Homo sapiens: one gene and its partner. The protein of the gene in region 2 purifies or fractionates together with the protein of the main gene of each other region. This does not show direct contact. Each region holds a gene or a part of one and is shown on either strand. Other genes may lie near its edges.

Region 1 (7,166 bases), on a different chromosome or scaffold from region 2:
GGGTGTGCTGACAGCCGGCTGTTAAGCCCTGCCTGCCCCGCGCCAAAGGAAGTGACTGCTGCCCCAGCCGTGGCTGTGCCCCCCGAGGCTACTGTGGCCATCACCACAGCACTGAGCAAGGCTGGCCCCGCCATACCCACCCCAGCAGTCTCTTCTGCACTGGCCGTGGCGGTCCCCCTAGGGCCCATCATGGCAGTCACAGCAGCCCCAGCCATGGTGGCCACCCTGGGGACAGTGACAAAGGACGGGTGAGCAGGTTGAGTGTGGGGGTAGGGGGTGTGGACAGGGCCCGCAGCCCGCACGGTTCCAACCCCACCCCATTCCTGCAGGAAGACAGATGCCCCGCCAGAAGGAGCTGCCTTAAATGGCCCAGTGTGATGCTGCTGCCGCCCGGCCACGGCCCACCCTGGTCAGGCTGCCTCCTTAATCGAGAAAACTACCTGGTGATGCAATCTTTTTTTTTTTTAATTTAATTTAATTTTAAAATAAATGCTGCATTGGTAAAGCTGGCAGTTGAAACCAGTTGGACGGCCCAGCTTGCGTCTCTTCTGCCTGAGTGGGCCTCTCAGGTCACTCGTGCCCTGCTGGAGGACAGAGGGGCACCTCAGCCGCCCCCAAGCCCAGAGCACAGCAATAAGGTCGGCCTGCAGGAGCCGGGGTGGGGGTGGGGGTGGGGGGGGCAGGACCCTGAGATGCCACCAGGACCTGATGGGCCAGGAAGGGCGTGGACATGGAGGCTGTTTTTACAGTTTTTTTTTTGTTGTTGTTTTGTTTTTAAAGAATACAGAAGGAGCCAAGCTTTTTTGCACTTTGTATCCAGCTGCAAGCTCAGGGCAGAGTCAAGGGCCTGGGTTGGAAAAACCTGACTCACAGGAATGCATAATTGACCCTTGCAGCTACCCAATAGCCCTTGGAGCTGGCACTGAACCAGGCTGCAAGATTTGACTGCCTTAAAAACACAAGGCCCTCTAGGCCTGGCAGGGATGTCCCTGTGCCCAGCACAGGGTGCCTGGCAGGGGGAGACCACAGGTATGCAGGTGGGGGGACATGGTGTGGCACTAGGGGCTCGAAGACTGGTTTCTAGCACTACCGGTCACGGCCATGTCGTCCTAGAAGGGTCCAGAAGATTATTTTACGTTGAGTCCATTTTTAATGTTCTGATCACCTGACAGGGCACCCCAAACCCCCAACTCCCAATAAAAGCCGTGACGTTCGGACAAACCGCGTACTGTGAACCTTCCGGCCCCAAAGCCCCGGCCCGGCCAGGGGTGGGAGAGTCTCCTCCAGCACCTCTTTTGTGGGCCCGCCACCCCCCAGCGTTATCCCCGTGTAATGGGTGGAGGCGGAACAGGCCACATCACGGCATCAGGTCTCTACAGCTTAGCAAATACTGACATTTTTCCGTTTGGGGGATGGGGGGAACCACTTCGCCTAACGCTCAAACACATCAACCCCAGGACTTCCTTTTGTGCCAGCTCCCCCTCCCAGAAGCCTGGGCCCCACCTTGTCCTCAGTGGCTGAGTGGGAGGGGCAGGTGGAGACCAGACCCCCACCCCGCCCCAGCGAGCTTGTCTTTCCACCACGGTTGGGGGTGGAGGGAACCCGCTCAGCTCCCCAGAGGCCGAGTCTCTGCCCCAGCTACACATTGAGTGCCTTGTTCTCGCCGCCTACCCTGTGCCTGGCATTTGTCCTCTCCCCCCACAGACGTGGAACAGGGAGGGCAGGGTCCTTTCTCCCCTTACTCTGACCTGTGGGTTTTCCAGGTGCCAGGAACTTCGGTCAGGCGCCATCTGTCCGGCCTGAGGGAAGACCTGGCTGGTTTCAGTGGCTCAAGTGAGCCCACCCTCACATCTCGCCCAGGTGTCCCAACACCACCTGTGGGGTGGGGGAGGTGGCGGGACCATGCTGGGCCTGACAGGGTCCAAGGCCATCCTTGGCTTCAACGTCCCACCAGGGGAGGGTCTTGGCCCCCCACCTGCCAGCACTGGGCCCTGCCTCTGCAGCTGTCATCAGAACCTTCCCCTCACCCACACCTGCTGCTCGCCTCCCACCTGAGAGGACCACCTGAGGGACCCAGCCTCTAGCCAGGTTCTCTGCCCCTCACCAGCCCCTCTGGCCAGGTCACCAGCTGCCACTCTCAGATGTTCTCTTGGCCTTTGCAGCGTCTATAACCCTCCCCACCTTCTGCTCCTGCACCCCTGGCCAGGCCTCGTCACAGGCAAGGACACAACAGCTCAGCAGGTGAAGCCCTGGGCCTGGTGGGACTCAGGTTTGAATAGGAAAAGAGCAGTGAGGGGCCACAGTGACACCAAGAAGGGAAGGACGGGGGCCCTCTGAGACCCCAGGGAAAGGACTTTTGGGGCAGAATTCCCAAGAACTGAGAGGGTCCATCCCCCATGGGCGTTGGCCCCTTACTCTGCCAGATGCTGCTCGTTGCCTGGCAGGAGCCAGATGTGGTCAACCTGCATTCCCCTGGGAGCCCACTGTCCCCCCCCCCCCCCCGCCTCCGGCCTCCATCCCTTCAGCTCGGGTCTAGCCAGAAACTGACGTCCACCTCAAGTGTCCTCTGGACCTGCAACAGCCTTCTGGGGTCAAATGACCACCCACCCTTTCACCCCCAAGCCTCTGTGAGGTCAGCTTCTGCATCCCCTGGGTAGGGATGGGGGCTTCCTCTCCAGCCGTGCCGGCCCCTAGACCAGCCCTGAGGCGTGGAGGGAATCAAGCAAGTCCCCAGTGAAGCCTCCTGCTCGATCCGCCCCCAGAGCAAAGTCACTCCCAGGGACATGCAGGCCGAGCTGGGTGGACCCAGGCACCAGGAGAGGCTCACGAGAAAGATGCCAACCTCCCGCCAGGTGGGCCTGGATAGGGGCAGATGGGACCCTCTGGGTAGGCCGAGAGCAGGCAGCCGGGGAGTGGGGAAGGCAGGCACAGGAGCGTGGCGTTAGTTCTCTCTTTATATAGACTCTGGTTCTAGAAACTCGCCTGCAGCCGCTGGCTGGACCAGCACACGCTGACGGGGCCGGACTATTTACAGGCCCATTGCGGGCTGTACCTTGGCCACCTCCCGGCACGGTGCTCAGCTGTGACGCCAAAATAAGTTAGGGCCGGCCGGGCGGGGCGGGGCGGGGACGGGGGCTGTACACACAAGTGCTGGGGGCTCGGGGCCTCAATACTGTCGAGGGCCGGGGCTGTAAACATGGCCGGGGCGGCCCTGCCCACCCCTAGTGGTCGGTAACGACCGGAAGCAGAGCAGCCGGGCAGGGCTGGGAGGCTCAGGCGTCCGACAGGCAGCTCTGGATCCGGTCCACCCACTGCTGGGCCGAGGGCACGTCCTGGGCACAGAAGTTGTAAACGCGACGCGTTGTCTTCACCTGGGGAAGGGCGGGTTACTGACTCCGCAGCCCCCACACCGCAGAGCCCCTCCCCTCTCCCAAGCCCCGGCCAAGGCTCACGTCAAAGAAGGCCTTCTCGTCCACAGTCTTAGGGGCACCCATAGTGGGCGTGCCAGGTGCCACAGCCTCCACCTCCGCCAAGTCGATGACACCCTTGCACTCTGTGTCCACACGGTGGTCGTAGTAGCGCAGCTGGAGGAGGCCACAGAGTCAGCGGAGCCCCCTCCCCCGTGAGTCCCCCCCACCACCTGATCACTCACCTGGTGCTTGGTCTTGTCCAGCACGAACCAGCGGGCCTTCCAAGGCTTCATGAAGGCCCCCTTCTTGTACAGAGTGCCCTCGTAGGACCTGCATTTCCAGCAGAACCAGGGCCAGGCTGACCGTCATGGCCCAGCCAAGCCCAGGCCCCAGCAGTCGTCCCCCCCTTGCTGTCCCAGCCCAGGAGGTAAGACCAGGCACCCTGTCCCCAGAACTGACCTAAGCCCAGAGCACTGGCCAGGGGGCCACAAAGAAGCCTTTGATGGGGGGCTGCAGGCCCAAGAAGACGACGCCCAGAAAGGAGACAGTGAAGGGCGCCTCACACCCTCCAGACTCCAGGGAGCATCCCCACACCAGAGCCTCAGGGTCTTGGGAAAGCAGCCCCCTACACAGGGCAGGCGCCCTTACGAGGAGAGGGATGGCCAGGCAGGTAGATCTGTAGAAGCAGCCACGGCAGCAGCTGCCTGGGATGGATCCTGCCAGACTCCAGACTCACGGGGGCCCCACCACTGCCCTCTCTCTACTCCTCCCTCAGCCACTGCAGGCTGTGGTCAGCTGTGGTCACCAGTTCGACACCCCAAACCCCTCCCAGTGGTGGTGTATACTTAAGCAAGCTCCTCAAAAGCACCCGCAATCTCCCACCAGAGGACTGCCTGGGACCCCAGAACACCAGCTCAGAGGTGTCCATGTGGCAGTGGGAGGTGCCCTCATACCTGTTCTCACTCTCTGCTGTCTGGAACTGGCTGTACAGGGTGCTGGTGCTGCGGCGGGCAGCCTGACGGGAGCCGGATGTGGTTGAGCCACTACTCTGGTCGCTGTCCAGGCTGAGGCTCAGGGTGGAGCCCACGGGCCCCTCCTGCAGGTACACACCCAGCGAGCGACGGTGGTGGGGTGCGGTGGACACAAGGAGGGAGCTAGGGGTGCCCTGGGAACAGGAGGTTGGGACTTGGGTCAGGGCTGGACAGACTCCACTTTCTCCCAGCAACACGCCCACCGTGGACGCTCACACTGGCCCTCACTCACACGGCCGTCTGGCCGGCCCTCGAGGCGCTGTGCAGCCTTCACCCGGTCCCAGGTGTCCTTCCAGCGCTCAGCGGGTTGGCCCAACTCTGTCTCCAGCCTCTGCAGCTCCTGGGGGAAGAATTAATGGCAAGTTTATTCAAAAGGAAATATCCAGACTAGAGCACGAAAAGACAAAAGGAAAACACAGGAAAGAGACACAACGGAAAGGCCTAACGCGTGTGTGACTGGCCACAGGGGGAGGTGGCAAGAGGGAGGGAAGGAATATGCAAAATGAATATTCGGAGACAACAGTTGAAAAATTTCCCAAACTAACCAGAGGCATCAAACAACATAATCAAGAAGCACTACAGACCCCAACAGGGTAAGTTAAAAACACACACCCCGGCCAGGCGTGGTGGCTCACGCCTGTAATCCCAGCACTTTGGGAGGCCGATCACCTGAGGTCAGGAGTTTGAGACCAGCCTGACAAACATGGAGAAACCGCATCTCTACTAAAAATACAAAAAGTTAGCCCAGCATGGTGGCGCACGCCTGTAGGAGAATCGCTTGAACCTGGGAGGCGGAGGTTGCGGTGAGCCGAGAACGCGCCACTGCACACCAGCATGGGCAACAAGAGCAAAACTGCTTCTCAAAAAAAAAAAAGACCACACAATACTGATCTTCAACACTGCAGGGTCCACAATGTCCAGCTTACAATAAAAGAACAGCAGAAAAATGGAGAAAAACATTAAAATAGACCCTGAAATGAAACAGGAGTTAGAACATACAGTAAATTCAAGAGAGTGATTTTAGGGCCAGGCGCGGTGGCTCACGCCTGTAATCCCAGCACTTTGGGTGGCCGAGGCGGGTGGATCACGAGGTCAGGAGTTCAAGACCAGCCTGGCCAAGATGGTGAAACCCCAACTCTACTAAAAATACAAAAATTAGCCGGACGCAGTGGCAGGCACCAGTAATCCCAACTACTCAGGAAGCTGAGGCAGGAGAATCACTTAAACTCAGGGGGCGGAAGTTGCAGTGAGCCGAGATCACACCACTGCCCTCCAGCCTGGGCGGCAAAGTGAGATTCTGTCTCAAAACACACAAACACACACACACACACACACACACACACACACCCCAAAATGGGACAGAAAAACTGCTGAAAAACAAAGAGAAAAGTCCCAAAACCTGCCAGAAGAAAAAAAGACATGCTCTCTTTGAAAGAGCAACAATAAAACTGACGGCTGACTTCAAAAGAGAAACACGAGGCCAACTGTCAACTTCCAGCCATGACAGATAATTAGTCTGAACAGCCCTCCCTCCATATGCAAATGATGAAACTGGACAAGAAGGGGAAGCCGTTGTTTCCAGATGTCAGACAAGCAGTGCAGCTTGAGAGACAGGAGCCTAAGACATGGGACCACATAAGATGGGCCCCACAGTCACCTGTTTTCTGCCCAGCCACAGTGCAGGGAGGCAGGGCCAGAGCAACACACGGGAGCTTGCTGAGCCGAGGAGGCAGAGACGGGACGTCCAGGGGCGCTAGTGCAGCTGGGTCTGCAGGGCAGCCCACAGAGGGGAGGGAGCACCACAGCAAAGGGGCTCTAGAAATCTAGACAGAGCCCTCCTTGAGTCGTTGGCCAAATTAGGCTGCCATGTGCAAAGCAAGATGTCACAAGGCCTGGCAGAGAACAGCTACTAAGAAGCTATGACCTGACGCCGGCAGCAGTGGCTCACACCTGTAATCCCAGCACTTTGGGAGGCCAATGCGGGTGGATAACCTGAGGTCAGGAGTTCAAGACCAGCCTGGTAAACATGGCAAAACCCTGTCTCTACTAAAAATACAAAAATTAGCTGGGCATGGTGGCGGGCACCTGTAATCCCAGCTACTCGGGAGGCTGAGGCAGGAGAATTGCTTGAACATGGGAAGTGGAGGCTGCAGTGAGCCGAGAGTGCGCCACTGCACTCCAGCCTGGGAGACAAAGTGAGACTCTGCCTCAAAAAAAAAAAAACAAAACTATGAGCTGAACCCAAATTCTAGAGGAATGCTAAAAGATACTGGACTTCCAAAAAGCCAGTGTGGCAAGACCTTACCGAAGACACAAAGACACAAAACTCCAACTGAAGCCCTGGAGAGGCCACACGCCTTGGGCTGCTCTATCCCTGGAGCTTCTCTAGAGGTGCTGGAGAGCTGCCCAAACAAAGCTTAGAAACAAGCTTCAAACAGACCAAGCTGACGCACAAGCTCATTACCTACCTGCGAGAATAAAACCCAAGACTCTAAGCTTAAAGAAAGACAACACAGGCAGGGCACAGTGGCTCCCGCCTGTAAGCCCAGCACTTCGGGAGGCCGAGGAGGGAGAATCGCTTGACCCAAGGAGTGTGAGAACAGCTTGGGCAACATGGCAAGACCCCATCTTTATATATATTTTTAAGTTATGTTTCAAGATTTAAAAGAAAAGATGGACATAATGGTTTATCAGATGGGGAATCTCTACAATAAAAAGCGTTAAA
Region 2 (8,261 bases):
ACAGTGGTTACAAAACTGGAGGCCTATGGTTTTTAAAAAAATTTAATTGCTGTTAGGTGGGCATTCTGTACTCTCCAGTTCTCTACAGCACTCTTCCATGTCTGCCTAGATTTGTGAACTGTTCCATGAAGGCATCTGAGTTTGCAAGCTCTGATTTATAAGTCACAAGGCCAGGCTATAGATTACAGAAGTAGATTTTGAAGGTTCATGCTAAAGCTTCCCTTTTCATAGACTAGGGCCCAATTTAAGAAATGTTAACCAAGACCCAGCTCAAGCATAATGAAGTCTTTCCTATACTCTGCCTTCGACTTCCCTCCAAATGTAATTACTGTACTATCCCATCCAATGATTAAACTTAGTATAAGGCCATCTCCATTTTCTCATTTTTCTTCAGAATGTTTAGAGAAGAGATATAGCTACTGTGTGTGTGTGGGTGAGGGAAGGAGAACAGAGAAGAGCTGATGATAATGATGAAGCAAGAGGAAGGAAGATGATCACATTAAAACTATAGTGTCCTAATTTTCATAAAGCTGGCCCAGATCAAATTCTTTTGAACACAATTGAATAATGTTCTAGCAAGAAAGGCATTTAGAGGTGAATAATCTAATCCAAGCCCCTTTATCCTTCCAGAAAAGGAAACTGAGCCTCAGAGACTATACAAGGTCACAAGCTAACCAATATTGTTTGTACTACTCCATCATGTTCTCTTTTCATAACCTAGTCCTACTTTCCAAACAATGGAAGCTGTGATCAATGATGTCACTTCTACTAATAGTTCCTAAAAATGTTTCCATTTGTAACTGTATTATTTCATCTAATCTACAGAAGATTACATTCAAATTTTGTTCTTAAAATTTCTGGCAAATTCAAGAGAAATTTTTTACCATTTGTTAGCCTAGTAAAAATGAAAGCAATTGAGTTGGTAGTGGAGGGGGGACAAGCAAAACAAATATTTTATTACATTTTGTGTAATAGTCTTAATTAACAGGCCAATCTTCAGGATGACTCGGTATTAAATCAGGCATTTATTAATTTAGCTGCCACACAATTCAGTATAATAGCTATCTACTCTTTCAGCTGGGACAATGCTTGCCAAACTTGCCATTTCACATACCACCTCAACAAGTTTGGCTTGCTGTATCTGCCAACTGCCCATACTAATTTTGTATTTATCTTTATATTGATTTAAAATCCATTCCTTTTTAATACTTTGCCTGCTCTAAGCCATAACATCTACTAAATCACAAGCCTGATGTGCTGATTTTTCTAATACACAAGAAAATAATTACATAGCTACTAAAATACGTCCATGGACATACCATCTAAACTCATGTCACGTGATACCAGCGATATTCTTACTGTACTTTAGATGAGCTGACCCTGGGCTGACTGACAATTTATGATATGAGTAAATAATAAAATAATTATTCTCCAATATCTGAGTTGCTAATTATTCAGATTCTTAGTAATATACCAGAAATGCAGGGTCCCATCACCAATTTCAACAGACAGAAACTCAGGAAGCCTAGGTTTTCAGATTTTATCATGCATAAGAAATATATGAGACACTTGTTTCCCTCCCTCAGACACTCTGATTCAGTAAATCTGGGATGGAGCCCGGGAAGCTGCATTTTTACAGGTGCTCCAGAGAATGCTGTCTTGGGAAGACCCAAGGGTCACATTTTGAAAAACAGTGGATGAGGCTGGGTATGGTGGCTCACACCTCTAATCCCAGCATTTTGGGAGGCCGAGATGGGAGGATCGCTCGAGCCCAGGAGTTCAAGACCAGCCTGGGAAACGTAGTAAGACCCCATCTCTATAAAAAAAAAAAAAAGAAAGAAAGAAGAAGAAGAAAAAGAAGAAAAAAAAAGATCGAAAAGCAGTGGATGGGAATGGGGGTGGGACAAAATCTTAAAATCACTCTAGCTTTTCAATAGGATGACTTGAGTTCAAATCCCAAGTCTAACTGTATGACCCTAAGCAAGTCATTTCATCTCTCTAGGCCTCGGTTTCCTCATCCATTAAATGATGATTGTAGTAATAGCTACCTCAATGGACTTTTTTAAAGAAGCAAGATCTCTCTATGTTGTCTAGGCTAGAGTGCATTGGCTTTTCACAAGTGTGACCACAGCACACTGCAGCCTTGAACTCCTGGACTCAAGTGATCCTCCCATCTTAGCCTTCCAAGTAGCTGAGACTACAGACCACCACACCCAGATTCACTAGGTTGTTTTAAGGCTTAAATGGATGACATGTCAAAAAGCATTACAAAACCCCAGAGCCTGTATGTGTTAGAGGGTTGATGATGATGATGATGATGATGACATAGAACCATTCTCGACAGCCTGTTACAACTCAGAAGACAATCAGCATTTCAAATAAGATGCCAAGCATTCTGCTCCACATAAACATCTGCTCCCATTTAATTACTGATGTTGAGTTTAATCTATAATAAATTAGCCCCCAAATTAAGTGTGTATTTCAAATAAGACATTTACACAACAGATAATTTCAAATATCAGCTGATGACTGCAACTTAAATCCTCAAGGAACTTTATCTGGCTCTTCAGGGTCAACCCCATGCAATAGCTCCCATGCCAGAGGGGTCCCAAAGGCCCATTTTGGTTACCCTGATTTTAAGAACTACTTTATAGGGAACATGTACAATTATCCTTGTGGTTTAGAAATATTTTATGTATTTATTATGTAAAAAAAAAAACTCTCCTTGAAGAAAGTGTAACAACCCCTGAGTTATAAATTTAACACCAACTTTTCAGATTTGGCTGCAGGGCAAATATAACAAAGACAATTATAAAACATGCCCCCTTACAATAATTCATCAAAGACTTTAGCTATGATCTGATGTAGGAACTTAAAATTTAATTTCCAAAAGAAAGAAAGCCTTATTTTTTCTGAATACCATCTGTTCAACCATTCCAACATGAGCTAATTCAGCTACACAAAATTTGTAAATAGACTGAGATTGAAAAAACTTAGTTGCTTCATGTTAAAGTACAGATTCAGTCTGATCTATTCATGCAATGTTAGAAAGCTATGCACACAGTCGACATTCAATCTTTTATAGGACACACACAACACTAACAACTATTCAACCTTAATGAAAACATTACAGTTAACTCATAATTGTCCATAAAGAAAATCACCCCGAAGTGTGAGAGCTATTCTCTGCTAAAATGGGTTCTTAAGTCTCTCTACTCAGCGGGCAGTTTCTCAGCTAAGGTGCAGGCAATAGGGCAACTGGAACTGATGCGATCCGCAGCTGCTCAGTGACCAGCCATTCACGCATCAGTGATGCAGCAAATGCTTCTCCCACCTGGAGACAGTGTGTTTGCCCGACCAGGTTTTAAGGTCCAGGAGCCCCAGCTGCTCTTTTATGGGCAAACATGAACACCACATAGCAGGAAAAATGATTAAGAAATACACTGTCACTCTTCTAGCTGGGCAGATTATCCAATTTCTGCTAATCCACAGCTATGCCTTCCTTTGGTAGGCATAATCAACAGCATCTGCCAGTTTGGATGAGGCAAGAGACAGCACCATAGCCAAATCTCAATTAATTGGCCTCCTGAGCCTGTTTCTGCACTTGTTATTACCCTATGAGCTCTAAAGAGGAACTGAAGATAAAGCTCCTAAACAAGGAGTACCTATTAAGAATTAATTAGGATCTTTACTGTAATTCTTGATATTTGTAAGATTTGATGTCTGGCAAGGACCATGATATTGAGAGACTATTAACTAATGGTAGTCTGGGATACCAAATGCATTTTACACACACTTGTGAAAAATCAATCATCTCTTACTAGCAGGAAAAATGACCACTAATAAACAGAAACCTCAACTTAGGCAAACATCAGTACTGAAATATAAATGTGATTTCATTTAATATACCTATTAATAGTTTATTGACATTAAAACAAAGTTAGTCTTTAGCCTTAACAAAGATGGAACAAGCGATTTTTTTGATTTGTTAATTGATTCAATATTTATTGAGCAACTGTTATGCTCCAGGATTGTGCCTGGGAAGCCAGTGGTAAAACTGCCCTAGTCTCTGCTGACAAGGAGCTTATCACTTAAATTTAGAATAAGCAGGGAATCTAACTTTTAAAATGAACAAAAAGAGATTTTCACTTCAGTAAGGACTGAAAAATGAGGCTGCCCATACAATACTCTTTTGAGATTCTGGAAGGGTTTTTATACATTCTAGTATCACATGTTAATGCTGAATACTCACAGATAATACATAAATTAAAAAATTGTGAAGTTAGGGAAGTATTGTACATCAAGATATTTCCTGAAACTCACAATACTAACAAAGAAGCTATATGCATTTATTATTATAAAATGGAACTTGATTTTTAAAAGAATCATTGTCATCTAAAGACAGCTTCTCCTTTCAATTACAAAACTATGACTACATGTACTGGATACTGGTAAAATTTCTCTTCTACATTTCAGATCTAACAACAGAGAACCTTTCATCCTTATTCTCGAGCAAATGGCCATGTTGCATCAAAAGGCCAACAGCTCACTTGAATTAAAACTGCAAAGCTTCTTGGCTACTTAGCATACTGAAAATGAATTAAACACTCAATGTTGCTTACCTTGTAATCTCTGGACACATTTTCTGATGTCACTGAACCTGAAATCTGACTAGAAATTGTAGCAGCTATAAGCTGTTTACACCATTCAACATGTGATCCTGTGGGACTAAAAAAAATAGCATGGATTACAAAACGTTATATCATAGGATCTCAGTGAAAAAATTAGCACTGAATAGGAATATGATAACACTTCTTTTTTTAGATGAACTAACTAGACTCTTTGGTTACCTTCACATTTTATGTAAGAACTGAAATAGCGACTGACAACTAGGAAATAAGATTAGATTCCAGGTTAATTTTAAATGAATCACCCAATTTTCTCAAACAAAGTTGAAGATTCTAGGTGTTAGTTAAGCTTACTATTCTCTACCATTTAATGGAATTTTACTCTATTAAAATTATATGGAAGAAATACTTCTTTTTTTTTTTGTGAGATGGGGTCTCACTCTGTCACCCAGGCTGGAGTGCAGTGGTGCAATCTCAGCTCACTGCAACCTCCCAGGTTCAAGTGATCCTCCCACCTCAGCCTCCTATGTAGCTGGGACTACAGGCACATGCCACCAGGCCCGGCTTTTGTGTGTGTGTGTGTGTGTGTGTGTGTGTGTGTGTGTGTGTGTGTGCGCGCGCGTGTAGACAGGGTTTTGCCATGTTTCCCAGGCTAGTCTCGAATTCCTGGGCTCGAGTGACCCACCCGCCTTAGCCTCCCAAAGTGCTAGGATTACAGGCATGAGCCACCACACCCAGCCGGGAGAAATATGTGAAATATTTATCTTACAGCATAGGCTTTTCAAACATTCAATCAATTTCATGTTGGTAGTTTTAAATCTAGAAAATAGTGTACTTTTGAGTGAAGCAAAGTGACTCAGAAAAGTAAAGCTGAACATGAGATTTATAAATTACAGCCTAGAAAAATGATGTTCTCTGTGTAGTACTAACAATACCTTACACTTCTATAAGTGCTTTGACAACTTACAAATGGTTTTTATTTTTTATTTATTTTTTTTTTTGAGACAGAGTCTTGCTCTGTCACCCAGGCTGGAGTGCAGTGGCGCGATCTCGGCTCACTGCAAACTTTGCCCTTCTGGGTTCAAGCAATTCTCCTGCCTCAGCCTCCCTAGTAGCTAGGATTATTTAGGCGCATGCCACCATGCCTGGCTAATTTTTGTATTTTTAGTAGAGACGGGTTTTCACCATGTTGGCCAGGCTGGTCTTGAACTCCTGACCTCAGGTGATCCACCCGCCTTGGCCTCCCAAAGTGCTGGGATTACAAGCACAAATGGTTTTTATTATATCAGAGCCTCACAACCATGGTGTGATGAGAAGGCAGAACAGGGACTAGCCGACTTGTCTTTGAGGAGAGAAAATCGAGGCACAGAGGTGACATGCCCTGTGAGAAAGTGGCTGTCCTCAACAGGACATGGAACAACCAATAGCGACTGACTCACTGCACTGAAGCCAGCAGCACAGATGCGAGCCAACCGCTTTACATGAAAACACAGCAATGCAAAGAAAATGTCATCTTTCACTCCCACAGAGCTCTGAGGCATCAAAGCATTTTCACACACGTAGCCTTGCCCAGCCTCACAGTGACCCATTTTACAGATGAAAAAATTAAGGTCCAGTTTTGCCCAAGGTCACACGACTGGCAAGTGGTCAGGCTGTACTCACCTGACCTGAAAGACCACATAAGCCAACTAGCGCAGTAAGAGATTTAACAATTGCCCCCAGAGGCCGGGTTCCTCTCACAATTTGGCAAAACACTAAGAAATCAAGCTAGAGGGCTAAAAACACCGACAAAAGTTTACCTTGCAGGTAGCTTTCACTGTAAAGAATGTTTCAGGCCTTTAAAAAAAAAATCATATCACTAATTAAACCCACACTCACATATCTGAAGGACAGAAACACCTGGAATCCCCAGGCAATATGGAAAATGACCCAAATAGTAAAAGAAAGAAAACTGAAGTTCTGTGCTAGTGATCCAAATTGCAGTCTCTGATCAAAACAGACCAGAGGTTATCTGTATGGTTGAAAATACTGAATGAGCAGAAATTCCTATCACATGCCAGGAATCTATATACCACAATTTCGACCTGAGGGGGAGAAGGAGAGAAAAGGGAGAGATTTGTTTCCTTTTTAAAGGTTAAGTCACTTTCATTCCCACGTATATCATACTTTTCTTGTCATAATGCCTTTTTCTGTCAGCACCCACCAGTTGCAAATACAGGAAGAAACTGCAGAAACCCAACTGCTGAGCATGAGTGTGACCTGCTATTACCACCTGCCTGCCCGGCATGCCTTCCCCCTTCTTCTGATAAAGACCTTCCTCTTTACTTTGGGAACTGCCCTTCCCCACAACACAGGCTTCTGTGGGGGAAAGCGGAGAAGAAGGTTGACCCCTTCCTCCACCTGCTCCCACTTGTAGGTGAGTTACCTAGGACCAGCCAATCCCAGACTTTTCCCCTTGGATCCTGAAATACATGGATCTGTATCCAGAGCTGCTGGAGGCCACTCCCCACCCCACCCCACCCCTACCATCTTAAGGAACTCACAGCGATTAAAAAGTGAGGGAAAATAAAAGAGAGAGGGAGAGAGAGATGGGGAGTCCCGACAACACTGTTTGCAATCCTGACCTCAACTGTGCCTGTGGCCATCTCTCCTCCTGTCTGGAGCAGTTCTGTGAGCCAGGGCATCTCATTTGCCTTAAGCTAGATTGAACTGTGGTTTCTGTCACCTGCAACCAGAAGCATCCTGGCCAATGTAGTTACACACAGTGAAGCACAGTGGGTTAGCAGACAGGAGGCCTGGACATGAGTCCTGCTTCTGTCACCAGCTAACTCCATGATCTTTGGCAAGACACATCCTCTTACAGGACCACAGCTTCCTCATTATTAATTACAGTATTCAGAAGAGAAGTGAAGGCCCCATAGTCCCAGGGACATGGCCAAGTCCCACCCATAGAGCCAGGTTCCATTCTAGAGGTCACTCTTCAAAGAAAAGTGTGAATCTGAGCTTGTTGAGCTGACAGAACTGAGAAAGGAGGCCATGATTCCTCCCCCATCCCTTCTCTGTAGTCTGTGCAATTGCCCTCTATACTCCTGGTGTCAATAACTACTTACAGGCTGGAGGCTCCCAGCTCTGTTTCTCCAACCTGGACTCTCCTGATCTCAATGCTGATGTTCCTACAAGACCTGTCCACTAGTCTGGCCCAGAGACCCTGCCAATTCAACCTGTCTAAACCAGCATCAGCCGCTCAGCCCCGCAACCTACTCTGCTCCTGTGTTTCCTAACTCAGGGCGCAGCACAGCCAGTTATCCGGCCCCCACACGCTAGAAAGCTGAGGTTTGCCTTGGAGTCCACCCGGCACTCCCCCCTCACATCTGAATGCTCACCATGTCGGGTCACTCTTACCTGGTAAGCATCTTGAAAATCCACCCAGCCCTATTCCTAGCCCAATTCCCTTTTCCAGACCTCCATCATTCTTCTGTGAACTCCACCTGCCTCATGAATTTAAGCCTCATCTATAAGCCCATGACTCCCCAGTTTGAATCTCCAGCCCAGACAACCCTGAACTCCAGGCTCAGATAGATCAACTATATCTTTGACATCTATTCTGGGACATATAATTGGCATCTCAAAATT

Evidence for each region. The genes of interacting proteins can lie anywhere in the genome.
Region 1: the proteins of MTMR1 (region 2) and SBF1 purify together in Homo sapiens (affinity purification with mass spectrometry; 4 studies listed by BioGRID and IntAct, with this or other methods). This does not show direct contact.

Annotation. Positions count from the first base shown.
Region 1 is NC_000022.11:50,443,870-50,451,035, forward strand, and holds the end of SBF1 (myotubularin-related protein 5), read right to left. Parts: intron 4,782-7,166; coding exon 4,674-4,781; intron 4,576-4,673; coding exon 4,364-4,575; intron 3,741-4,363; coding exon 3,653-3,740; intron 3,585-3,652; coding exon 3,453-3,584; intron 3,372-3,452; coding exon 3,273-3,371; 3' UTR 1,131-3,272; downstream 1-1,130. Other genes in the region: PPP6R2 (serine/threonine-protein phosphatase 6 regulatory subunit 2), read left to right, coding at 1-248, 330-378. UniProt on the Homo sapiens protein: Acts as an adapter for the phosphatase MTMR2 to regulate MTMR2 catalytic activity and subcellular location. Promotes the exchange of GDP to GTP, converting inactive GDP-bound Rab proteins into their active GTP-bound form.
Region 2 is NC_000023.11:150,695,662-150,703,922, reverse strand, and holds part of MTMR1 (phosphatidylinositol-3-phosphate phosphatase MTMR1), read right to left. Parts: intron 4,729-8,261; coding exon 4,623-4,728; intron 1-4,622. UniProt on the Homo sapiens protein: Lipid phosphatase that specifically dephosphorylates the D-3 position of phosphatidylinositol 3-phosphate, generating phosphatidylinositol. Could also dephosphorylate phosphatidylinositol 3,5-bisphosphate to produce phosphatidylinositol 5-phosphate.